Linked DNA regions of Homo sapiens. The protein of the gene in region 2 interacts with the protein of the main gene of each other region in a biochemical or structural test. Each region holds a gene or a part of one and is shown on either strand. Other genes may lie near its edges. The genes, in order: PLEKHO1, SMURF1, AXIN1, ANKRD13D, SMAD5, PDLIM7 and UBE2D2.

Region 1 (3,500 bases), on a different chromosome or scaffold from region 2:
TACAGAGACAGAGGAAAGGATGGAATGACCTCAGCCTAGGATATCTGGTGTCCTATGAGTCAGGACCATCTGACTGGTCATGGAGCCAGCTGTCTCCTGCTGGGAAGGGCACAGGAAAGAGGGACTAGGCATATTGATACTGTGCTTTTTTAGAGCCAGTTTCAATGCTACAGTGGGCCTGGTTAAAAAGTGAAATTGACAGAGTACTCTGGGCTTTATTTTGCCCACTTGTGAAAAGCTCCAGGGCCAATAGAATCAAGACACGGTGTTCTGTTTTGTTTTGTTTTTTAGAGACAGGGTCTCACTCTGTCGCCCACGCTGGAGTGCAGTGTCACAATCGTAGCTCACTGCTGCCTTGACCTCCCGGGCTTAAGCAATCCTCCCACCTCAGCCTCCGGAGTAGCTGGGACTACAGGCATGCACCACCACACCCAGCTAATTTTTTTTATTTTTTGTAGACATGGGGTCTCACTATGTTTCCCAGGCTGGTCTCAAATTCCTGGCTTCAAGTGATCCTCCTGCCTCAACCTCCTGAAATTCTGGGATTATAGGCGTGAGCCACAGTCCCTGACCAAGATTTTTTTTTTTAAGGCAGAGTATAATCTATATCATTTACTGTTAATGCAAGAAAATTTCTAACCCTATCTCCCAGAATTTTCACCAGTCTCTTTTGTTATTTCCTCTCTTAAAGGCAGGGTCTCCCACAACCACCTCTGCCGTAGAATTTCTTCTGTGTTCGATAGTAATCATTTTCTTCCTTCTCAAAGGGCATCCTCTCTCAAAGAGGGCTGGAGCACCTTATGATCACAGGCTGATGTGTAAGAACAGAAGCTAGACCTTAGGAAGACCTCATGGTGGAGGAAATTGGATTCGGGGCAACTCTTTGGACAGGCGTGGGAAAAATCCCTTTCTATAGTCAAGGACGAAGAATCAGGGGAAAGGAAGGGTTAATTTGGAAGATGGGTAGTTATAAATGAGACTCTGGGAATTAGATATGTGGGGAAAAAAAAAACAATATGGTGGAGAACAAGGCTGCTTGGCTTTGTCCATCTTCCCAGGCACTGGAATATACTTGTCCTACTGCTTGCCTCACCCCATCTCCCACCCTCTCCACCAAGGGCTAACCTCTATCAGTGTCTCCTGCTCCCCAGAGCTCCTAATCAGTCTGTATGCAAGGTAGAATAACTCCCTTTCCTTCCCTTCCCCTAAGGAAAACATAGTAAGTTAACTCTCTTCCCCTGGCTACATTCACACACCCAACACTTTCCTCTCCACGGTTTCTGGGCTCTGCTGATAGTCTCAGCTCTGGAGAAGGAGGGGGAGAGGAGGGATGATGCATCATCTTGTATCCCTGTCCCGTGTTTCTGGGAATTGCTCTTGGACACCCCTTGCCAGCACCTTGTCCTACTTCCACCCGTAATCATTCAAGGCCTCTGGCCACTTTCCAGCCCAAAGCCAGGGAACCCTGGAAAGTGGGAGGCCCTGGAGGAGCCAAGCCTTGCTGAAACAAATGGAGGTAGATGTATGAGGCGTCACTCACCTGAATGGGGCCATGTTGACATCTGTCCTCATCTGTCATCAGCCTCCAGGTCCAGCAGCAGTTCAGAAGGATGGGCAGATACAAGACTGTAGATGGTCTGGGTAATGGAAGGGAGAACCACTTCCCCACTTCCAGGTTTCCAGGAACCAGGAGGATAGATGAGTTCACCTCCATGCACACGAGTCCTATTTCAGAACTTGGGAAGTTGGGGACTGTTTTGGAAAATAATTTCAGTCAGGGTGGGTAGATGTCATCCAAGGAAGACGTGAGGCTACTTTTATCTGTTTGTTTAGTTTTAATGAGACAAGTGCTGGTGCTTTTAATTCTCATTCCAGGAAAACGTGACCAGGTTTTTCCTGAGGTGTTCCAACCCTGGGCTCAAGCCACGGAGGGTGGACAGACTGCACGGTCTGGACTTGTAACTAAGTCTCCTCTCTGTAACTTTGGTCCTTGCTAGCCAAAACAAATCCATAAGCCACTGCTTCAGAGTCCCAGAGTTGTAGGAACACCACCTTAGGGGAAAAGAGAAAACATTGTGGTCAGTTTCAGATGAACCTGCGAAGAAATGTTCCTAGAGCTGCTTTGCAGTGCTCAGAAAAGGCTAGTTGGGGTTGGAGAATGTCACTAGGAATGCGGCCTCGATGAGACGTTCAGCAGGAGTGCTAAGAGCTAAATGTTGCTTAAAACCTGCTAAAGGTGGAACCAGAGTGCGGGACGGAGACTATAGCAGGGAGGGCTAAGTTTAGATAGGAGGAAGAGCTTCCTGGCAGTAAAGGGGGCCCAGGCACTCAAACTGGAATAATGGCAAGAAGTCACAGAAGTCACTTTTTTCCAAGTCTAAAGTGTAGTCTCCCAGGGAGAGTCTAAGTGCATTCTTGCCTAGAGATAGGGGGTCTGGAGGAGTTAGTTTGGATTGTCACAGTACCTTAGAGGGAGGAGGAAAGGGTAGGAACTGTAATTGTAGTTTTCAGCTTCTCTGGACAAATTCAGCAAACTGAACACGGGGCTGCCGTCCTGTGGTGGCGATGCTCCTGAAATGAACAAGGAAGATGAGTCTCTATAATTGTACATACCAGAGAAGGAAGCGAGGTGGGGTGGGAGAGCTATACTGCACACATGTGAGTGGGGAGGCCAGAGACCGCCCCTCGTTCCCTCCAGACACCCCGATAACTGGCCCTGCCTTGATCTTCTTTCTGTGGACCATCAAGGGCCATACAGGTCTGTCTTACTGAGGGCAATGGATCAACCATCTACCATGTCCCTTTAAGGACGTGAGCCTTTTTAGAACATGTAAGCTGTGTCCTTAAGGAAAAGAGTGGGGCGGTTGGTGAAGAGAGGCATAGTGGGACTCTGGAAATGGCAGCCTGGCTAAGGAGAGTGAAGAGAAGGGGTTTAAACAGAAACACACCTTAACATTCAAGACTTGGAGCTGCCCTAGCGTCCTCCTCGATGTGAGGACCTTGTAGGCTTTGGGCAGACGGCCCTCTCCTCTCCTGGCGTGCCTCCCTCTCCTCAGGCTTCCTCTGTTTCCCAAGATGATCTAAACTAACAGTCTGGGTGGAGGGGCTAAATAATTTTATCCTCCTCACCTCACCCCAACCCTCCCCTAGGTAAAAGATGAGAAAAATATTCAAGAGGTATTTGACCTGAGTGACTATGAGAAGTGTGAAGAGCTCCGGAAGTCCAAGAGCAGGAGCAAGAAAAATCATAGCAAGTTTACTCTTGCCCACTCCAAACAGCCCGGTAACACGGTATGTTTCTCCTGCCACCTTGGCTGCTGGAACATGGACAGGGTTGGAGGGGGCAGGGGAGAACTCCTTCCCCTCAGTTTCTCTCTCAGCAATCTTGGTTCAGATTCCCTGAATTGCTCTCCTGCTGGCTTTTATCATTTCACCTGAGAATATTGTAGCCATTTCCTTCTTTCCAGGCAGGCCACCCTTTAACCTGTTCAGCCACAAAG
Region 2 (3,500 bases):
CCCTTTCCCTTTCCCTTTCAGTAGATGTTATGAATGGTTTGAGAGGATTTGTGAGTGTGATCATCCTTACAATAGGATTGCGGTTTAGCGGTAATGGTACACATGCAATGCCAGTACGTGGAACCTTAGTTTACCTCGAAAGGTTTGAACTAGAAGTTTGTTGACGGTGGAATAGGTTTTAGTCTCATCTTTCTGGTTAAGGGAAGTTTGAATTCTCACTTCTGGGATGTTGAGAAGCAATCTTTCAAAATTTGAATACTTTTGTTACAGGTTTCAGAGTTTATTTCCATGTTTGTTATTTGGAAAAAAAAAAAAGACTGTTAAAAATGAGGGATATTTCAACCAGTCAATGAATAGACACAGAGCGAAATTCAGTGCAAAGATAGTGAAGATGGCCTGGCGCCGTGGCTCACGCCTGAATCCCAGCACTTTGGGAGGCTGAGGCAGATCACGAGGTCAGGAGGTTGAGACCATCCTGGCTAACACGGTGAAACCCCGTCTCTACTAGAAATACAAAAAATTAGCTGGGCGCGGTGGCTCACACCTGTAATCTCAGCACTTTGGGAGGCTGAGGTGGGGCGGATCACGAGGTCAGGAGATTGAGACCATCCTGACTAACACAGTGAAACCTCGTCTCTAGTAGAAATACAAAAAATTAGCTGGGTGTGGTGGCGGGCGCCTGTAGTCCCAGCTACTGGGTAGGCTGAGGCAGGAGAATGGCTTGAACCTGGGAGGTGGAGCTTGCAGTGAACCGAGATTGTGCCACTGCACTTCAGCCTGGGCAACAGAGTGAGACTCTGTCTCAAAAAAAAAAAAAAAAAAAAAAAGGATACTGAAGATACTACATTTAGAACTTTGGGGTCCACGATTCTATTTGGGGGTGAATAGGGCATTAGATTTACAGTTAGGAGACCTAGATTCTAGACAGATTTCTCATTAACTACATGTTACGGAACAAGTTATTTAACCTTTTTGGGTCTCAGTTTCTTTATATATCAAATGAGATTTCAGCTCCATTATAATACTCTTTGATCCTCCTTCTCACAGGATATATCAATTTAGCTACCTACTTATTTCAAATTACTGTTGGGCACTTGGGCTTAGTGGTATTCTTAATCCTGATATTCAGAAAATTGTGTTGGAGTGTAGCACATGTGTTTGATTTATGCCAAGCATTAATTTTGTGTATTGATTACATTTATGACTTTATTTCTTCATGTGGGATTGTTTTTGAAAACTGTTGGGTAATATGTTGAACTGCTTTGGCAACCTGGTCTAAACAGTAGAAGAATATTTGAGCCTTTGTATTTAAAATAATAACATTTTAACGAATGTTTTTGTGGTATTTTAGTAGGAAAATAGTTTTTAAATGGTTTCAGTAGGTTTAGGGGCATAATATATCCAGAATCAAGTGATCTTTTGTTAAAGAGCATTATCTTGTAGTCATTGGAGTTCACTGGCAAATCAAACACTTTAGAAACATTTTGATTGAAAAATCAAGCAGGATTTGCAAAAACTTTGTTCTTATCTGGTACACAAATGAATCCCAGACACATTGTTTAGGCCACTTTGGGTAAAAGAATGGAATTCAGGGTTCTACAATGCTCTTCAAGAAAATTAAATTTTATTGTAATGTCAACCAATTAGTTGAAATACAAGTGCCTAAACTTTTTTGTGCTTTTATGCATTGAAATACTCTCAGATATCCTGGTGTTTTTATATCTTTTGGAGCATGACTGCATATTGTGAAGTAAGAAAAACTCTAATTCCAAACAGAGAGGAACAAAGAGACTTTCCTTGATAGCATGTGGAAATATGAGGTTGTTTTTAAAATTGTAGCTTGTGGGATGTAAGGGTGACTTGTGTTTTGGCATTCAGATGGTGCAACTGTGAGTGAAATAGTTGTGGTAATAGCTGTTGATGATGTTGGTTGATGAATTACAGGTGTCTCAATTGATTCAAAATAGTTAAGTCTCTCAAGAAAGATTAAGAAAATTGTTAAGACTGTTGACTTTGTCAATTTGTACCAGCTAAGAACCTCACTTATGTGAGGCAGGCAAAACTTTTGTTTCAAAAACCATATAACACAGTTGCTGTGATAAGATGGAATAAGTGGTCAGTTTTTAGCTCCCTTTGCATTTACATTTTCCTTAGGGTCTGCCTCAAGTTTAGGAAGATACAGTTAAGGCAGTTCTTTGAGATGAATTATTGGAAGGTGTAGGATGGGTTAGAACAAATGCTGTTGCAAAACTTGAATTGCAATTATACTTTAAGAAGAATCACATTCTGCCAAATAGAGGTTTTTGTCATTGATTTTGTGATTTGATCACATTTGTGTTGCCTTTTAGAACAACTTTCTTTTTTCAAATCCATTTTTTTTTCCTTTTAATCTTCTTGGCCCACCCAACTGACTTTAGACATGAAATCTTTCATATGCTTTATTTCTATCTCCATTTTTACAGTAGTTGTGATTTATCAAACTAGGATTTTTAACTTCAAGTCCATCTGTCAGAGTTTAAAACCTCTAGTCTTGCAGTTACAAAAGTCCTTTCTGAATGTTGGGTTTTTCTTTCTCTTCCACACATTTTCATTTTCTCGGTTCAGTCACAATGTCAGGTTCTAGTGTGGAAAATTGGGTGAAAGAAAGGTTTTGGAGGCTGTGTTATTTATGAAATATTTCCTCATGGATTAAGAAAGAAAAAAAGACAAAACGACAAATAGTGTTTCAATATCACCTCAGTGATCCAGTTAACTAGACTGGCTGTTTTGTACAACATCGTGGGCACTGGTTAACAGTTAAAATAGCTGAATTGTGCGTTTTATTCAGTGGTTCAAAAAAGCCTCAAATGGATGAAATAACTTGATATCTTCGCCATGCTCTGATTTGCTGGGTAAGACAGCTAACTTTTAGGATGCTTATTTGGATCAATTTTTTATAATTTCAAAACCATTTTAGAGGCTAATTTTTTTTTAAACAAGGAATATACAATTTTTTTTTTTTGTCACTGAACAAGTTTTAAATTACTGGTTTGTTATTTTGTAAGTGAATTTGTAAGTGAAAGCCTCCAACTTAAATTAGCTTCTTGTCCAGGGAACTCATTCTGACTGACTAAAGTCCCTAAGGCCTTTCTAGTTAAAGGAAAGCCATGGAGCTATGTTTAAAAAACAAAAGCACATAGCTATGGGGCTTGGGCATATCTTCTTTTTAAAATGTCACTATTACTGTTTTGTCTCCAGATGCAATTTAATCCATTTAGATATTTAAACCAAGTGGAATGTTGTTTCCACATTTCTGGACTAATGGGGGAAAAAACACCCTCATATTGTTTTAAAACAAGGCTTAAATAATGTATAATCAGCGCGTCTGGTGACGCGCCCCACTCTGTAATTCCAGCTGTGTTCACCTCCACTGCAGCTGAAAGGAATTCTAATTGGCTGAGGAATGTCGGCAACATCGTTTATCACTGAGCAGGAACCTATCCTCCTGGCTGCTGGGTGAT
Region 3 (3,500 bases), on a different chromosome or scaffold from region 2:
CTCAGAAGCTGCTCCTGGAGACAGCTGCCCCGAGGGTCTCCTCCAGTAGACGGTACAGCGAAGGCAGAGAGTTCAGGTGAGTCCGACGCCAGGCGTCCACTTTCTGTACTCACCTCCGAGAGCTGGAGAACAAGCCAGGGAAAGGTGCTGATGAGGCGGGCGTTAACCCACACCGGATGTCCTGCTGCCGCTGGGGTTGAATTTTGGTTCTGTTCTTATTTGTGATACTTTTGCATTTGTCATTACTTTTTTATATTTGTAATGTTGAGAACACTTTTACTGAGAACAGACTAAAATATATGACTTTATGAGTCATTAGGAACATCGGAATTCTTAGAAGTCACAATGACATGTAAACTTTACCCTTCAGCAGTAAAGTCTGTCACCTCTTAAATAGGAGCTGGATCTACCCAGTAGACATGGTCCTTTCCGCTTAATAAAGGGAGGAGTGGACGTTTCAGGGCATCGATAAGAATTGGAGAATTGGATTCTTGCTTTTTTTTTTTTTTGAGACGGAGTTTCACTTTTGTTGCTCAGGCTGGAGTGCAATGGTACAATCTCAGCTCACTGCAACCTTCGCCTCCCGGGTTTGAGCGATTCTCCTGCCTCAGCCTCCTGAGTAGCTGGGATTACAGGCATGTGCCACCACGCCCGGCTAATTTTGCATTATTAGTAGAGGTGGGGTTTCTCCATGTTGGCCAGGCTGGTCTCGAACTCCCGACCTCAGGTGATCTGCCTGCCTCGGCCTCCCAAAGTGTTGGGATTACAGGCGTGAGCCGCCGCATCCGGCCAGATTATTGCTTTTATAATGATCTTCTAAGCTTCTTCCTACAGGCTGAGAAATAGCAGGGGGGACGTTTTACGTGTGGGGAATGGTCAGAGTACTTTGAAAACTTCCTGTGGCTATAGTGGGCATTCCAGGATTGGGCCTTTTTTCCTGCCAACAAAATCTGTTGGTGCTGTTGTGTAGTCCACAGCAGCCTGGACCCTGAGGCGATCCTGGCAGGGCCTGTGGGGTGCGTGTGTTGCCTGGGAGGGAGCAGAGTGGTGCTCAGCCTTGGAACCTGTTTCTTCGTTCTTCCTTCCCTGTGATCCCTGCGTGGTTCCTGGAGGTTTATTTGGCTTTCGGGCTGGCATCTACTGTGCTTGTGAGCAGAGCGCATGCATTTCCCACTCTTTCCCTAGAGCTGGTGACCGGAGGCTCCGGCCTGTGTAACTTTGAAAGCCTGGAATTCATGTGACCCCTGCTGACCTAATCAAGACTCCGAAAGCACAGCCCCATGTGCTGGGACTCTCCTGAGGAGTTATTAAAAACTCGCATTAGTTCTTCAAGCTTACTGTGACACAGAAATTGGCTACTCGCTCATCAACACAGGATTAAACATGTCTAAGGTTAAACTTGTAGTCTAAGTGATACGATTTAAGATGGACTGTCGACTGGGCGCAGTGACTCACACCTGTAATCCCAGCACTTTGGGAGGCCGAGGCGGGCGAATCACCTGAGGTCGGGAGTTCGAGACCATCCTGGCCAACGTGGTGAATCCTCATTTCTACTAAAAATACAAAAATTAGATAGGCGAGTTGGCGCATGCCTGTAATCCCAGCTCCTCGGGAGGCTGAAGCAGGAGAATCGCTTGAACCTGGGAGGCAGAGGTTGCAGTGAGCCTTGGTTGTGCCATTGCACTCCAGCCTGGGCGACAAGAGGACAAGAGTGAAACTCTGTCTCAGAAAAAAAACAAAAAAAAAACAAAAAAGGATTGTGTAGGTTAATTGGTTAATTTTTTTTTTTTTTTTGAGATGGAGTCTTGCTCTATCGCCCAGGCTGGAGTGCGGTGGCGCCATCTCGGCTCACTGCAAGCTCCGCCTCCCAGGTTCACGCCGTTCTCCTGCCCCAGCCTCCCAAGTAGCTGGGACTACAGGCGCCCGCCACCATGCCGGCCAATTTTTTGTATTTTTAGTAGAGACTGGGTTTCACCATGTTAGCCAGGATGGTCTCGATCTCCTGACCTCGTGATCGCCTGCCTCAGTCTCCCAAAGTGCGGGGATTACAGACGTGGGCCACCACGCCCGGCCTTTTTTCCCTTTTGTTCATTGTCTTTAGCCAAGTGGTATTTATTTAGCAAGCATTTTAGGACACAATATGCCGCAAAGTTATCCTGTTGAGTAAGCCTGGTATAAACTGAGAGTTTCTTTCTTTCTTTCTTTTTTTTTTTTTTGAAATGGAGTCTCGCTCTGTCACACAGGCTGGAGTGCAGTAGCACTATCTCGCTATCTCGGCTCACTGCAACTTCTGCCTCCTGGGTTTAAGTGATTCTCCTGCCTCCCGAGTAGCTGGGATTACAGGTGTGTGCTACCATGCCTGGCTAATTTTTGTATTTGTGGTAGAGACAGCGTTTCGCCACGTTGGCCAGGATGGTCTCGAGCTCCTGGACTCCAGTGATCTCAGCCTCCCAAAGTGCTGGGATTACGGGTGGGAGCCACTGCACCTGGCTGGTTATTTTTTTTGCTTGTTTTTTTGTTTGAGATGGAGTCTCGCTCTGTCGCCCAGGCTGGAGTGCAGTAGTGCAATCTCAGCTCACTGCAACCTCTGCCTCCTGGGTTCAAGTGAGTCTCCTGCCTCAGCCTCCCGAGTAGCTGGGATTACAAGTGTGAGCTACCATGCCCAGCTAATTTTCTGTATTTTTAGTAGAGATGGGGTTTTACCACGTTGGCCAGTCTGGTCTCGAACTCCTTTCCTCAAGAGATCTGCCCGCCTCAGCCTCCCAAAGTGCTGGGATTCCAGGTGTGAGCCACTGCGCCCGGCCCCGGCTGGTTATTTTTAAGATGGGACTGAAGTTGAGGGCTGGGCTGCAGGAGGAAAATGAGCTCCGTTCTGATTTCCACTGTTGGAACCCCAGTGCCTCCCTCCCAGCCACTCTTCAGTTCTTGGCTGCGAGCAGTAGCTTTGCTGTCTGTCCTTGGTTTGCTGTATTTGTAATAAGGAACCTTTGCTATGAAATTAGTGGGATACATTGGCTTCTCCTGTCTAATTTTGTGTAGCTCTGTCTACACAGTTTGGGTCCTAACTTGACTGCTCTGGGGCTGCTGGTGGCAGAGGACCCTGGGGCTTGGGAGTCGTGTCTGCGGTTGAATCCTCTCTGTGGGAGGTGGCCTGTGGTGCAGCCTTGTGGCTTGAAGATCTCTGATGTTGGAATGGTTGCTTGTCAGCACAGACAGGGCATGAAGTCCAGGCTGCGTTCCTCACATTTAGACCATTCTCTTTGTCCTGCCAGGTGTAGGTGAGGGTGCACTAGGTTGGAAGTCGTGGAAACCCACCCACCTGAGCCCAACCCTGAAGGGCACTGTTGAGGCAGAGCCTCAGGTGTGCCTTAGGGCCTGGCACCTTTGCTTTGTGCCATTCTGACTTTGCCTGCCTGGTGGGCGACTTCGTGGGCTTTGTGTTGGAGGTGGCTGCTGCAGTGACCTTGGGCTCTGGGCTCCCTTGTTTACAGATGCTTCCC
Region 4 (3,500 bases), on a different chromosome or scaffold from region 2:
TTGTTCTTCATCTTAGGGGAAAAACATTCAGTCTTACCATTAAGTATGATATTAGTTGTGAGTTTTTGGTAGATACCCTTCATCAGGTTAAGGTAATTCCTTTCCATTCCTCATTGTTAGAGTGTTTTTATCATGAAAGGATGTTGGATTTTGTGAAATGCTTTTTCTGTGTTTATTGATATGATCATGTGATTTTTTAAAAAATTCTATTGATACATCAATTGACCTATGGATATTGAACCAACCTTGCATTCCTGTGATAAGTTCCACTTGGTTGTGGTGTATAATTCTTTTCATATGTTGCTAGATTTGGTTGGTTCGTATTTTGTTGAGGATTTTGTGTCCATATTCATAAGTGATATTGGTCTGTAGTTTTCTTGTGATATATGTCTGGTTTTGGTATCTGGGTGATGCCTCATAACTGAAGTGGAAAATGTCACCTCTTTGTCTATTTTTTTTAATAGTTTGCAAATAATTGGTATTAATTTGTCTTCAAAAGATTGGTAGGATTCAGTGGTGAAGCCATTTGGGCCTGAGTGTGTGTGTGTGTGTGTGTGTGTGTGTATGTGTGTATAGTTTTTTGTTGTTATATTTACCAATCAGTCTCTTGACTTGTTATCCATCTATTCAGATTATCTATTTATTCTCAAATTAGTTTTGGTAGTTTGTGTCTCACTAGGAATTTGTCCATTTCATCTAAATTATAAAATTTGTTGGTGTACAGCTATCATTGTATCCTTTTATAATGCTTTTTATTTCTGTTGCTCCCCTCTTTCATTTCTGATTCTGGTGAGTAATTTGAAGTTTTTGTTTTGTTTTGTTTTGTTTTGTTTTGTTTTGTTTTTGAGACAGAGTCTTACTCTGTCACCCAGGCTGAAGTGCAGTGGCATGATAAGAGCTCACTGCAGCCTTGAACTCCTGGGCTTAGGTGATTCTTCAACCTCCCAAGTAGCTGGGACTGCAGGCATGCACCACCAAGCCCAGCTAATTTTCTTTTTTTGTAGAGATGTGGTCTCACTATGTCATCCAGGCTGCTTTTGAACTCCTGGCCTCAAACAATCCTCCTGCCTTGGCCTCCCAAAGCACTGACATTACAGGTGTGAACCACCGCCCCCAGCCAAGTCTTCTCTCTCTTTTTTTGCCCACCGTGGTCAACCTAGCTAAAGGTTTGTCAATTTTGTTGATGTTTTCGAAGAGCCAGTTTTTGGTTTCATTAATTTTCTCTATTATTTTTCTATTCTCTATTTCATTAACCTTTACTGTAATATTTATTATTTCTTTCTGTTCTTTCTGGTTTAGTTTGCTCTTTTTCCATTGTCTTAACATGGAAGGTTAGGTTAAGGTTATTGATTTGAGATCTTCTTTCTTAATATAGGCATTCACACATATTACATTTATACTTCTAGGCATGTCTTTTCTTTTTTTGACATGGGGTCTCACTCCATCGCCCAGGCTGGAGTGCAGTGGTGTGATAGCTCACTGCAACCTCCGCCTCCCAGGCTCAAGTGATCCTCCCACCTCAGCCTCCTGAGTAGCTGGGAACACAGGCGCCAGCTAATTTTTTCTGTTTTTAGTAGAGATGGGGTTTCACCATGTTGCACAGGCTGGTCTCGAACTCCTGTGCTCAAGCAATCTGCCTGTCTCAGCCTCCCAAAGTGCTGGGATTACAGGCGTGAGCCACCGGGCCTGGCCTGGCCTTTACCTGTGTCTCATAAGTTTTTTGGTTTTTTTTTTTTTTTCTGAGAGGGAGTCTTGCTCTGTCGCCCAGGCTGGAGTGCAGTGGCACGATCTCGGCTTACTGCAAGCTCCGCCTCCCGGGTTCACGCCATTCTCCTGGCTCAGCCTCCCGAGTAGCTGGGACTATAGGCGCCTGCCACCACGCCCGGCTAATTTTTTGTATTTTTAGTGGAGATGGGGTTTCACTGTGTTAGCCAGGATGGTCTCCATCTCCTGACCTTGTGATCTGCCTGCCTCGGCCTCCCAAAGTGCTGGGATTACAGGCGTGAGCCACCGTGCCCGGCCATAAGTTTTGATATGTTGTGTCTTTATTCCTGTTTATCTCAGAGTATTTTCTGATTTCTCTTTTGATTTATTATTTGAGACGTTGGCTATTTAGGAGTGTGTTGTTTACTTTCTACATATTTGTGAATTTCCAAAGTTTTTTTTTTCTGCTATTGACTTCTAATTTCATTCCATTGTGGTTGGAAAACATACATTGTATGACTTCTATCCTTTCAATTTTATTGAGGTTTTCTTTTTTTTTTTTTTTTTTTTTTTTTGAGACGGAGTCTCGCTCTGTCGCCCAGGCTGGAGTGCAGTGGTACTGTCTGCTCACTGCGAGCTCTGCCTCCGATGTTCACGCCATTCTCCTGCCTCAGCCTCCCAAGTAGGTGGGACTACAGGCGTCCACCACCGTGCCCGGCTAATTTTTTGTATTTTTTAGTAGAGACGGGGTTTCATCATGTTTGCCAGGATGGTCTCGATCTCCTGACCTCATGATCCACCCCCCTTGGCTTCCCAAACTGCTGGGATTACAGGCATGAGCCACCGCGCCCGGACTTATTGAGGTTTTCTTAATGGCCTAGTGTATGGCCTTGAAGAGTGTTCCGTGTGCGCGTGAGAAGCGTGTGTGTGGTTGTTATTGGGTAGAGTGTTCTAGCCTGCTTATGAAGTCCAGCTGTAGTGTTGTTCTTATCTTCTGGTTCTTTGTTGATCTTCTAGTTGTTCTATCCCTTATTGAAAGTGGGGTACTGGAGTCTCCAACTGACATACTTTTCTTTTAGCTTTTTATTTTGGAAAATTTCAAACATATATGAAAGAAGAGATAATGTACTTACTCATCACCCAGCTTCAACATTTATCAACATCTTGCCAATCTTACTGAATCTATCCTTCCTTACCTTTTTTAAAAATGTTTCCTAGAGTGTGTCAAAGCTCATCCCAGATGTCCTAATGTTTCTAGTAAATGCTTCTGCACAATTCTAAAAGACAAGGATGTTTTTAAACCCAGCCCCGACACTATCATACCTCACAAGATTCATGCTAATTCCTCAGTGTCTTCTAGTCCCAAGTCCATGCTCAAGTGTCCCCCCCTGTCCAGGCACCCTCTTCAGGGGTCCTCCATGTTTCATAGCGAGAAGGGGCCCTGAGAGTTGGGCACCCCGGGCAGGCTGGCTGGAGGGGGCTTTGGAAAGGAAGGCTTTGGCCAGCGTGTGAGGGTGCAGGTCTCACCAGCTCCTGTTTGGTCTGTTTCAGGAACAAATGTGGTATCTGGGGCTGGCGGTCTGAGAAGATGGAAACTGTTAGCGGCTACGAGGCCAAGGCAGGAGAGGCTAGGGGTGGGGGGCTGGGGGTAGGAGATGAGGTCCAGGAACTCAGCTCCTCTCCACATCCATCCCAGAGTAGCCCCTGGGCTCTGGAAACCCTGAGCATTTGTGGGAACTCAGCGGGCCTGAGTGCCCAGCCCCTGCGGAGTACACAGGGCTCACCCACATCATGGG
Region 5 (3,500 bases), on a different chromosome or scaffold from region 2:
CATTTTATTCATATGGTTAATGTGTATAAAACTTAACCCTGAATCTTCCTTTAGCTTTCTTATCTGCATTTGCCAAATCAGTTGATGTCAAACCCCATTCTTCCAGTTGTCCAGGCTGATACCTTGGAATCATTGTTAACTCCTTTGTTCTCATACACCCCATGATCTCCTTCATCAGGAAGCTTACTGTCTTTCATATGTCTGCTGCTCACCACCCCACTGCTATCACCCTGGTTGTAAGCCATCGTCATCTTCTCCCCTCCCTTAGATTACTGCATCTCTGAACTGGTCTCGCTGCTTTTATCATTGCTGTCCACCCCTCCTCCTGCTTATTCTCAACATACCAGCCAGGATTTATTTATTTATTTTGAGACGGAGTCTTGTGCTGTCACCCAGGCTGGAGTGCAGTGGCATGATCTTGGCTCACTGCTACCTTGACCTCTTGGGCTCAAGTGATCCTCCCACCTCAGCCTCCTAAGTAGATGGGATCACAGGCATGTGCCACTGCACCTGGCTAATTTTTTAATTAAAAACAATTTTTTTTTGTAGAGATGGAGTTTTAAAAACTATGTTGCCCAGGCTAGGCTTGAACCGCTGAGCTCAAGTGATTCTCCTGCCTTGGCCTTCCAAAGTACTGGGATTACAGGCATGAGCCACCACGCCTGGCCCAGGATAACTCTTTTTTTTTTTTTTTTTGAGATGAAGTCTAGCTTTGTTGGCCAGGCTAGAGTGCAGTGGTATGATCTTGGCTCACTGCAACCTCTGCCTCCCGGGCTCAAGCAATTCTCCTTCCTCAGCCTCCCAAGTAGCTGGAATTACAGGCACATGCCACCACACCCAGCTAATTTTTGTATTTTTCGTAGAGACGGGGTTTCACCATGTTCGCCAGGCTGGTCTTGAACTCCTGACCTCAGGTAATTTGCCCACCTCGGCCCAGGATAATTCTTTAATAGTGTAAGTCGAGAACTATCATGTCTGTGCTCAGAGCTCTCCACTGAGTTCACAGTTTCCTTAGAGTACTGTAAAAGCTAAAGCCTTTATATCCAGCATGGCCATTCTGGCTCTCTGGTATCTCTTTGACCCCACTCCTTACCTTTTCCCCCTCGTACACTGTGTTCTCAGGCTATACTGGTCTTCTAGCCAGTATATGCTCTTCATGCCAGAAGCATGCCAGACATGCTCCTACCTTAGGATCTTTGCATTGCCTGTTGCCTTTACCTGTAATGGTTTTCCCCTAGATATATGCCTGTTGGCTCACTCTTTTATTTCCTTAACATTTTAACTCAGTTGGCACCTTCTTGGTGAGACCCAGCCCAGCCACCCTGTTTAAAATTACACCTCTCTTCCAGGACTTCTTGTCCACCTTCCCCTGTTTTAATTTTTCTCTATAGCACTTTTCACCTAACAAACATATCATTTACTATATCTCGTTGGCCTCCTTCTGCTGGAATATAAGCTAAATGAAGACAAGTGTTTTGGTTCCTTTTATTCACTTCTATATTCCCAGCTCCTAAAATGCTATCTTAATAAATATTCTTTTGGATGAATGACTTGAATGAATTTGACAAGTTATTGTAATGTATGTGGTACTGTTTTTTAAAGATTATATTCTAGTGCGAGAGACAGAAATAAAGTAAATGAACAAATTATTATGAATCAGTTAATACAGTGAAGAAAATGAACATAGTATTGGATTAGAGATTAGGGAAACTCTATATAGGATTATGGGGTGATCAGGGAAGGTATCTGGGATGAGAGCTAAAGCTGAGACTTAAATAACGATAGAGCTAAAAATTAGTGGCCAGGGATTAAGAAAAGTGGTATAAGCAGAAAATGGCATTTGTAATATCTGAGGTTCAAAAGACATTCCAGTATAGGAAGATAAATGCTTTTGAAGAATGAGTTCTTACTAATATTTATTGGGAGCAGGAATAATGCTTCTGGAGTTTGATTTCATTGTTTTGAGGAGCAACAGCTCATTTGTAGTAACAGGACACACTGTGAAAAGTGCTAGATACCTGGATTACATGCCCTTTCTCTGTCTCTCTGTGTTCCTCTAGTAACTTGAGTTTATCTCATTGTACTTACATATAGGGGTATAGTTTGGTGTCTGTCGTGCTACGTTATTCTGTGAAGGGAGATTCTGTCCCGTTTGCATTTTTGCTATTCCCACTCTTCACTCATATAGTACCTTTGTATGGGACTTAGAAAAAGGCCTTCTCATTTATTCCTTCACCCTTGGCTAGTGCTGATAAACCCCTGCATGTCCTACAATGTCTGCTAGTTAGTAGGTGCTCAATAAGTGTTTAATGATTCATGGCTGTTATAGCTGCTGAGTCAGTTAATGCACATATACTTAAAGAAGTAGGTGTACCTTATGATAATCATTTCTGTATTTCTGTTGATTAACCTAGAGTACTATAGTTATGGAAGTATTTGTACCTAGTTTCTGATTTGATTTTTCTTAGTTTCAACCTCCAAATTTGTATAACCCCAAGTATATTAGAGAGAATTGTTTTGAAGCAGGAATGACTCATGATAATGTAAATCCTCTCTTTAGTAAGGGTTCATAATATGGCTGAGGTATAGCTGCACTTTAATTTTGAAACCTGTTTTTCCTCTGACTCTTCAAGAAATATGTTTATTTTAAAAAATATAGAATTAGATGAAGCAGAAAGTGAAAAGTACACCTAACCCCACCACCAGAGCTAATATCACAAACCCTTTCTTTCATTAAACAAATATTTATTGAGCATATGTATCACTAGGCTTACAGTGATGAGTGAAAACAGATACAGCTCTTCTCGTGGAATTTACATTCTTGTGGGGACAGATTTGAAAGGTAAATGTAAAAACATAGGTGTGGTAAGTGCTACAAAGTAGGAGTATGTGATGCGGTAAGCATATAAGAGGGGGACTTCTAGCCAGGACGGTTTGGGAAGACTTCCCCGAAGAAGGGATGCTTGAGCTGAAAGAGAGGTGAGGTGTGTGTGTGTTTTGTAATGTGATAGATTCATTTGTAATTCATGATATACCGTAATTTTATAAGGTTTTCATTTATGGCTGAGGTACCACTGCATCTCTTTTGGTACACTAATGACGTTCTGTGTTCAGTCAGTGGTTGCAGTTTTTCAGAAGAATCAGGGAACCTCACGTACACAGGAATTTCTAAATATTATGATTACCTTGGTTTTCTTTCTAGCTTTGAGGTCATTTCTCTAAGAAATGACAAAATACATCAATAAAAGGGTATTATCAAGTCAAGTCTTCATAAACCAAAGGTATACTATGAAAGGCCAAGATAATAGCAGATAATGGGTTCATAGCTGTTAAGTCCCTCCAGTTTCTAGTGTAAGAAGGAGCATACCTTCCTGTCTGTTCAATTATTGGCTCTCTGTGCTTGGTGTACATTTTTTTAAACTCAATTTTAATGCCCTATTTCTGTTGGCTATCATATGGAAATAAATATAGGATAAAACTAAGTGATAGGCTAAATGGCA
Region 6 (2,356 bases), on a different chromosome or scaffold from region 2:
GGCCAGGCACTGTGGGGATAGATCAGCTAACAAAACAGTTGATGCTTCCTGCCCTTCTGGGCCTTACATTTTGGCTGGAAGAAGAGGGGAGAGGCAGACTGTAAGCAATAAGCGCAATAAGTAGGTTGCCTGGAAGTAATGTTAGATCACGTTACGGAAAACAGGAAAGAGCAGAGCGACAAGTGCTGGGGTGCGTGGTGCAGGGAAGGCAGCTGGCTGCTGCTGGTGTGGTCAGAGTGGGCCCTCATGGAGAAGACTGCATTCGAGCAGAAACTTGAAGGGGGTGAGGGGTGAGCCTAGAGATATCTGGGGCAGAGCAGTCCAGGCAGAGGGGACAGCCGGTGTCAAGCCCAGGACAGGAGTGTGCCTGGTGTGCCAGTTTCAGGCAAGAGGCCAGTGTGCAGAGGCAAGGTGAGAACGCAAGGGAGAGCAGTGGCGGAGACGGTTGGGAACGAGGTCAGACCTGCTGGCCTCCAGCCTCTGCATGGGGCTTGGCTCTTGCTGGGAGCAATGGGAAGCAGTACACAGTTTCATGCAGGGGGAGAAGGCCTGTCTTGGGTTGCAGGGGCACGCTGTGGCAGCTGGGATCAGAGAGAGGAGCTTGTAGGCCAGTTGTTATGTGGTCCCACGGGCCAGATGGCCATGGCTTACCTCACTTCAGGGAGGCTGTGAGAAGCACTCAGAATCTGGATGTGCCTTGGGGGTGGGCCCCACTGGATTTCCTGGTGGACCTGGTGTGGGGTGTGAGAGGAGGGTGTGTTTGGCTGCAGCAGACAGGAGAATGGAGTTGCCATCCGCGTGATGGGGATGGCTGTGGGAGGAGAGGTTTGGGGTGAGGGAATCAGGAACTGAGTGCTGGACATGGCAAGTCTGAAGGCGCAGTGGTCGTCCACTCAGAGACCTTGGAGTTGGAGATGGAGGTGTGGGAGTCCTGAACAGTTAGATGTAGTGTTTACCGCGAGAAGGAACAGGGCTTGCGGCCAGCCCTCCTGTGTTCCCGTGACCCAGGGCAGGGCAGGAGGGGCCTGAGCCTGCCGAGTGACTGGGACCTCCTTCCAGGAGATCATGCACGCCCTGAAGATGACCTGGCACGTGCACTGCTTTACCTGTGCTGCCTGCAAGACGCCCATCCGGAACAGGGCCTTCTACATGGAGGAGGGCGTGCCCTATTGCGAGCGAGGTACCCACTGGCCAGTGAGGGTGAGGAGGGATGGTGCATGGGGCAGGCATGAATCCAGGTCCTCTTTCTCTCTGCCCCCATTCTCAGACTATGAGAAGATGTTTGGCACGAAATGCCATGGCTGTGACTTCAAGATCGACGCTGGGGACCGCTTCCTGGAGGCCCTGGGCTTCAGCTGGCATGACACCTGCTTCGTCTGTGCGGTGAGAGCCCCGCCCCTCGAACTGAGCCCCAAGCCCACCGGCCCTCTGTTCATTCCCCAGGAGATGCAGGAGAAGTTGGGAAGGGGCCTCTCCTGCTGCCCCCAACCCCATGTGACTGGGCCTTTGCTGTCCTTAGATATGTCAGATCAACCTGGAAGGAAAGACCTTCTACTCCAAGAAGGACAGGCCTCTCTGCAAGAGCCATGCCTTCTCTCATGTGTGAGCCCCTTCTGCCCACAGCTGCCGCGGTGGCCCCTAGCCTGAGGGGCCTGGAGTCGTGGCCCTGCATTTCTGGGTAGGGCTGGCAATGGTTGCCTTAACCCTGGCTCCTGGCCCGAGCCTGGGGCTCCCTGGGCCCTGCCCCACCCACCTTATCCTCCCACCCCACTCCCTCCACCACCACAGCACACCGGTGCTGGCCACACCAGCCCCCTTTCACCTCCAGTGCCACAATAAACCTGTACCCAGCTGTGTCTTGTGTGCCCTTCCCCTGTGCATCCGGAGGGGCAGAATTTGAGGCACGTGGCAGGGTGGAGAGTAAGATGGTTTTCTTGGGCTGGCCATCTGGGTGGTCCTCGTGATGCAGACATGGCGGGCTCATGGTTAGTGGAGGAGGTACAGGCGAGACCCCATGTGCCAGGCCCGGTGCCCACAGACATGAGGGGAGCCACTGGTCTGGCCTGGCTTGGAGGTTAGAGAAGGGTAGTTAGGAAGGGTAGTTAGCATGGTGGCTCATGCCTGTGATCCCAGCACTTTGGAAGGCCAAGGTGGGCAGATCGCTTGAGGTCAGGAGTTCGAGACCTCATGGCCAACACGGTGAAACAGCGTCTCTAGTAAAAATACAAAAATTAGCCGAGTGTGGTGGGGCATGCCTGTAATCCCAGCCACTCAGGAGGCTGAGGCGGGAAAATCACTTGAACCTGGGAAGTGGAGGTTGCAGTGAGCTGAGATCACACCACTGCGCGCGAGCCTG
Region 7 (3,500 bases), on a different chromosome or scaffold from region 2:
CCTTTCTTTAAAACCTGTCCTTTAAAGTTGACTTATTAGAATATTTAGAAGAATAAGTTAAAGGAACATTCAAAAATTTCTAACTTCCCTGTTGTCATTTCCAGGAAATACATGAAGTCTTTCCTAATTGATGTTAGAATGTTCTATGCTTGAAGAGGGCTTCAGGTGATGACACCTGACAATAGGAAAATGTTTTTGGAATGCCAGCTGCCAGAATTGTGGGTAACAGGAATGAAGAGTCAGAAAACATCTCTCCTGATTTTTTAAAAAAACTTTTCATATACTCTTAAGGCAAGGAAATAGCATTTTTGTTACCAAACTGAATAGGGCATGCCAACTATTTCTTTACTTCTCAGAAGCCCTTGATCTCTATAGGATAGATTTGGTAGGAATATGAGCGAATCCTTTCCCTGCTGAATTTATGTGTTGGGAGTAAAATGGGCTGAGAGTTATTATCTCTTGGTACAGAACACCTATTAGAGAAAAGAAAGATGGCTGAGCTCTATTAGCATTAGTATAGAAGGATTTAAATTTATTTTGTCAGAGGCTACTGAACTTAATGTAATCAGTGACTTTATGCCCCCTTTGCATTCAGTAAGGAATGCATAAGTTAATGATAGATATGGCCGGGTGTGGTAGTTCACGCCTGTAATCCCAGCACTTCGGGAGGCCGAGGCAGGTGGATCACTTGAGCCTAGGAGATCAAGACTAGCCTGGCCAACATGGCAAAACCCAACCTCTACAAAAAATACAAAGAAAATTAGCTACACATGGTGGCACTCACCTGTAGTCTTACCTGGAGAGTGAGGTGGGAGGATGACTTGAGCCCAGGAGGTTTAGGCTGCAATGAGCCAAGATCATGCCACTGCACTCCAGCCTGGGCGACAGAGTGAGACCCTGTCTCTAAATAAATACATACATAAATAAATAAATATTTTAAAACATAAGTTAATGACAGATTTGAACAAAGGAAATTACACTATTGAGATTTGTCTGCTACATCCCAGGTTGTCACCGAGGAAATGGCTTAGATGAGATTCTAAATTGTCACTGAAGAGAATTTGAGACATTCATAGAAGTATGTTGTATTCTCTGTAATGAGTGTATGACCATCCCCATTTAGGGGCAAGTGTTTGCATTTATGTTCTTGATTTAGACTGAATTGTTTTCAACTGAAAATTAAACAAAACAATTGTCTGAATGTGGTGCCTGCCACTGGAAAACAGTGATTGTTGGATTTTATGGTTGTCGTTTTTGCTAAGAATATTCAGTAGTGTGGCTGTCTTTTTTTTTTTTCTTTTTGAGGCAGGGTCTCACTCTGTCACCCAGATTGGAGTGCAGTGGTGTGAACACAGCTCAATACAGCCTTAACCTCTTGGGCGTAAGTGATCCTCCCACCTCAGCCTCCTGAGTAGCTGGGACCATAGGAGTGTGCCACCACATCCAGCTAATATTTTTATTTTTTGTAGAGACAGAATCTCACTCTGTTGCCTAGGCTGGTCTCAGACTCTTGGCCTGAAGCGATCCTTCTGCTGTGGCCTCCCAAAGTGCTGTGATTACAGGAGTGAGCCATCGCACTTGGAATTTTGAAAGCCATTTATCCTTGAATATGGGCTTCTAAAAAATTGAACTTTATGGGATCTGAAAAATGTTCTTGGTCTAGAATTTAGACAAAGTTCTAATTCTATTCTAATTACTAGCCAGGGACATTGAACACGTCACTGCACCTGTCTGGGCCAGCTCCCTTAGGAGTTCAGGCATAAAGACAGTCATATCAACTCTTCTTACATCATGGGATTGTTGTGAGACTTTGCACAAAGGGGCTTATATTTGTATCTGGGAGACCAAGATGTCATTTAACATTAATTTTCTGCTATTTGTTTTATTTTATTTTTTATTTTTTATTATAATTATTATTTTTTGGAGATGGATTTTTTGCTGTGTCGCCCAGGCTGGAGTGCAATGCTACGATCTCGGCTCACTGCAACCTCCACCTCCCAGGTTCAAGCGATTCTCCAGCCTCAGCCTCCTGAGTAGCTGGGACTACAGGCACACACCACCACGCCCAGCTAATTTTTGTATTTTTAGTAGAGATGGGGTTTTACCATGTTGGCCAGGATGGTCTCAATCTCTTGATCTCGTGATCCACCCCCCTCCGCCTCCCAAAGTGCTGGGATTACAGGCATGAGCCACTGCAGCCAGCCTTCATTTTTATTTTTTAATGACCTAACCTAAAGTCTGTTTAAGCTTCTTAAAATCCTTGTTGGTAGGCTGGGTGCAGTGGCTCACGCCTGTAATCCCAGCACTTTGGGAGGCCAAGGTGGGCGGATCACGAGGTCAGGAGATCGAGACCATCCTGGCTAACACGGTGAAACCCCCGTCTCTACTAAAAATACAAAAAATTAGCCGGGCGTGGTGGCGGGTGCCTGTAGTCCCAGCTACTCAGGAGGCTGAAGCAGGAGAATGGTGTGAACCTGAGAGGCGGAGCTTGCAGTGAGCCTAGACCGCGCCGCGCCACTGCACTCCAGTCTGGGCGACAGAGCCAGACTCCGTCTCAAAAAATAAAAAATAAAAAAAACTATTTGCCAGGTGTGGTGGCTCACGCTTGTAATCCCAGCACTTTGGGAGGCCGAGGCGGGTGAATCACGAGGTCAGGAGTTCCAGACCAGCCTGACCAACATGGCGAAACCCCATCTCTACTAAAAATACAAAAATTAGGCCAGGCATGGTGGTTCAAGCCTGTAATCCCAGGACTTTGGGAGGCCGAGGTGGGTGGATCACCTGAGGTCAGGAGTTCGAGACCAGCCTGGCCAACATGGTGAAACCCCAATTCTGCTAAAAAAAAAAGAAATAATAATAATAATAATAATCCTTGTTGGTTACTGTTAATATAAAGTTAAGTAAAACTTACAAAGCTGCTAGGCATTACAGTATAAATTCTTAGAATTTTCTCATGTTTTGGCGTCTCATGTTTCTCTCAACCCTTTGCTTTGATCCTCTGCTAATTTATATGATTTTTTTCATTCTAGTACTCTTGTCCATCTGTTCTCTGTTGTGTGATCCCAATCCAGATGATCCTTTAGTGCCTGAGATTGCTCGGATCTACAAAACAGATAGAGAAAAGTAAGTATGGCCTCAAGATGGAAAGTTATCTGTGGTGGGATGGAGATGTTTGTCACAAATCTTTCTTGTTTAAGGGCTGAATATCGGCCAGATATTTAAAGTGAAGTCCTAATATACTCTCCTGGGGCTAGAAAAGAGAAATATATGCATTGAGTATTATTATAAGTAGATGATGCCAGTCTTATCCCTGATTGTTTCACGTGACTCCTCTTGTCTACAAAAACTTTTTTTTTTGTTTGTTTTTTTTTGAGACAGGGTCTTACTCTGTCACCCAGGCTAGAGTGCAATGGTGCAGTCTTGGCTCACTGCAACCTCCGCCTCCTGGGTTCAAGTGATTCTCATGCCTCAGCCTCCCGAGTAGATGGGATTACAGGCGC

Evidence for each region.
Region 1: the proteins of SMURF1 (region 2) and PLEKHO1 form a complex in vitro, tested with the Homo sapiens proteins (4 studies listed by BioGRID and IntAct).
Region 3: of the proteins of SMURF1 (region 2) and AXIN1, one has a biochemical effect on the other in vitro, tested with the Homo sapiens proteins (2 studies listed by BioGRID, with this or other methods).
Region 4: of the proteins of SMURF1 (region 2) and ANKRD13D, one has a biochemical effect on the other in vitro, tested with the Homo sapiens proteins (one large-scale study listed by BioGRID).
Region 5: of the proteins of SMURF1 (region 2) and SMAD5, one has a biochemical effect on the other in vitro, tested with the Homo sapiens proteins (3 studies listed by BioGRID, with this or other methods).
Region 6: the proteins of SMURF1 (region 2) and PDLIM7 are reported together in a solved structure, tested with the Homo sapiens proteins (2 studies listed by BioGRID, with this or other methods).
Region 7: the proteins of SMURF1 (region 2) and UBE2D2 form a complex in vitro, tested with the Homo sapiens proteins (3 studies listed by BioGRID).

Annotation. Positions count from the first base shown.
Region 1 is NC_000001.11:150,152,916-150,156,415, forward strand, and holds part of PLEKHO1 (pleckstrin homology domain-containing family O member 1), read left to right. Parts: intron 1-3,150; coding exon 3,151-3,291; intron 3,292-3,500. UniProt on the Homo sapiens protein: Plays a role in the regulation of the actin cytoskeleton through its interactions with actin capping protein (CP).
Region 2 is NC_000007.14:99,137,609-99,141,108, reverse strand, and holds part of SMURF1 (E3 ubiquitin-protein ligase SMURF1), read left to right. Parts: intron 1-3,500. UniProt on the Homo sapiens protein: E3 ubiquitin-protein ligase that acts as a negative regulator of BMP signaling pathway. Mediates ubiquitination and degradation of SMAD1 and SMAD5, 2 receptor-regulated SMADs specific for the BMP pathway.
Region 3 is NC_000016.10:342,724-346,223, reverse strand, and holds part of AXIN1 (axin-1), read left to right. Parts: coding exon 1-76; intron 77-3,500. UniProt on the Homo sapiens protein: Component of the beta-catenin destruction complex required for regulating CTNNB1 levels through phosphorylation and ubiquitination, and modulating Wnt-signaling.
Region 4 is NC_000011.10:67,295,803-67,299,302, forward strand, and holds part of ANKRD13D (ankyrin repeat domain-containing protein 13D), read left to right. Parts: intron 1-3,255; coding exon 3,256-3,322; intron 3,323-3,500. UniProt on the Homo sapiens protein: Ubiquitin-binding protein that specifically recognizes and binds 'Lys-63'-linked ubiquitin. Does not bind 'Lys-48'-linked ubiquitin.
Region 5 is NC_000005.10:136,139,345-136,142,844, forward strand, and holds part of SMAD5 (mothers against decapentaplegic homolog 5), read left to right. Parts: intron 1-3,500. UniProt on the Homo sapiens protein: Transcriptional regulator that plays a role in various cellular processes including embryonic development, cell differentiation, angiogenesis and tissue homeostasis.
Region 6 is NC_000005.10:177,482,894-177,485,249, reverse strand, and holds the end of PDLIM7 (PDZ and LIM domain protein 7), read left to right. Parts: intron 1-1,059; coding exon 1,060-1,180; intron 1,181-1,267; coding exon 1,268-1,383; intron 1,384-1,519; coding exon 1,520-1,606; 3' UTR 1,607-1,856; downstream 1,857-2,356. UniProt on the Homo sapiens protein: May function as a scaffold on which the coordinated assembly of proteins can occur. May play a role as an adapter that, via its PDZ domain, localizes LIM-binding proteins to actin filaments of both skeletal muscle and nonmuscle tissues.
Region 7 is NC_000005.10:139,620,339-139,623,838, forward strand, and holds part of UBE2D2 (ubiquitin-conjugating enzyme E2 D2), read left to right. Parts: intron 1-3,029; coding exon 3,030-3,123; intron 3,124-3,500.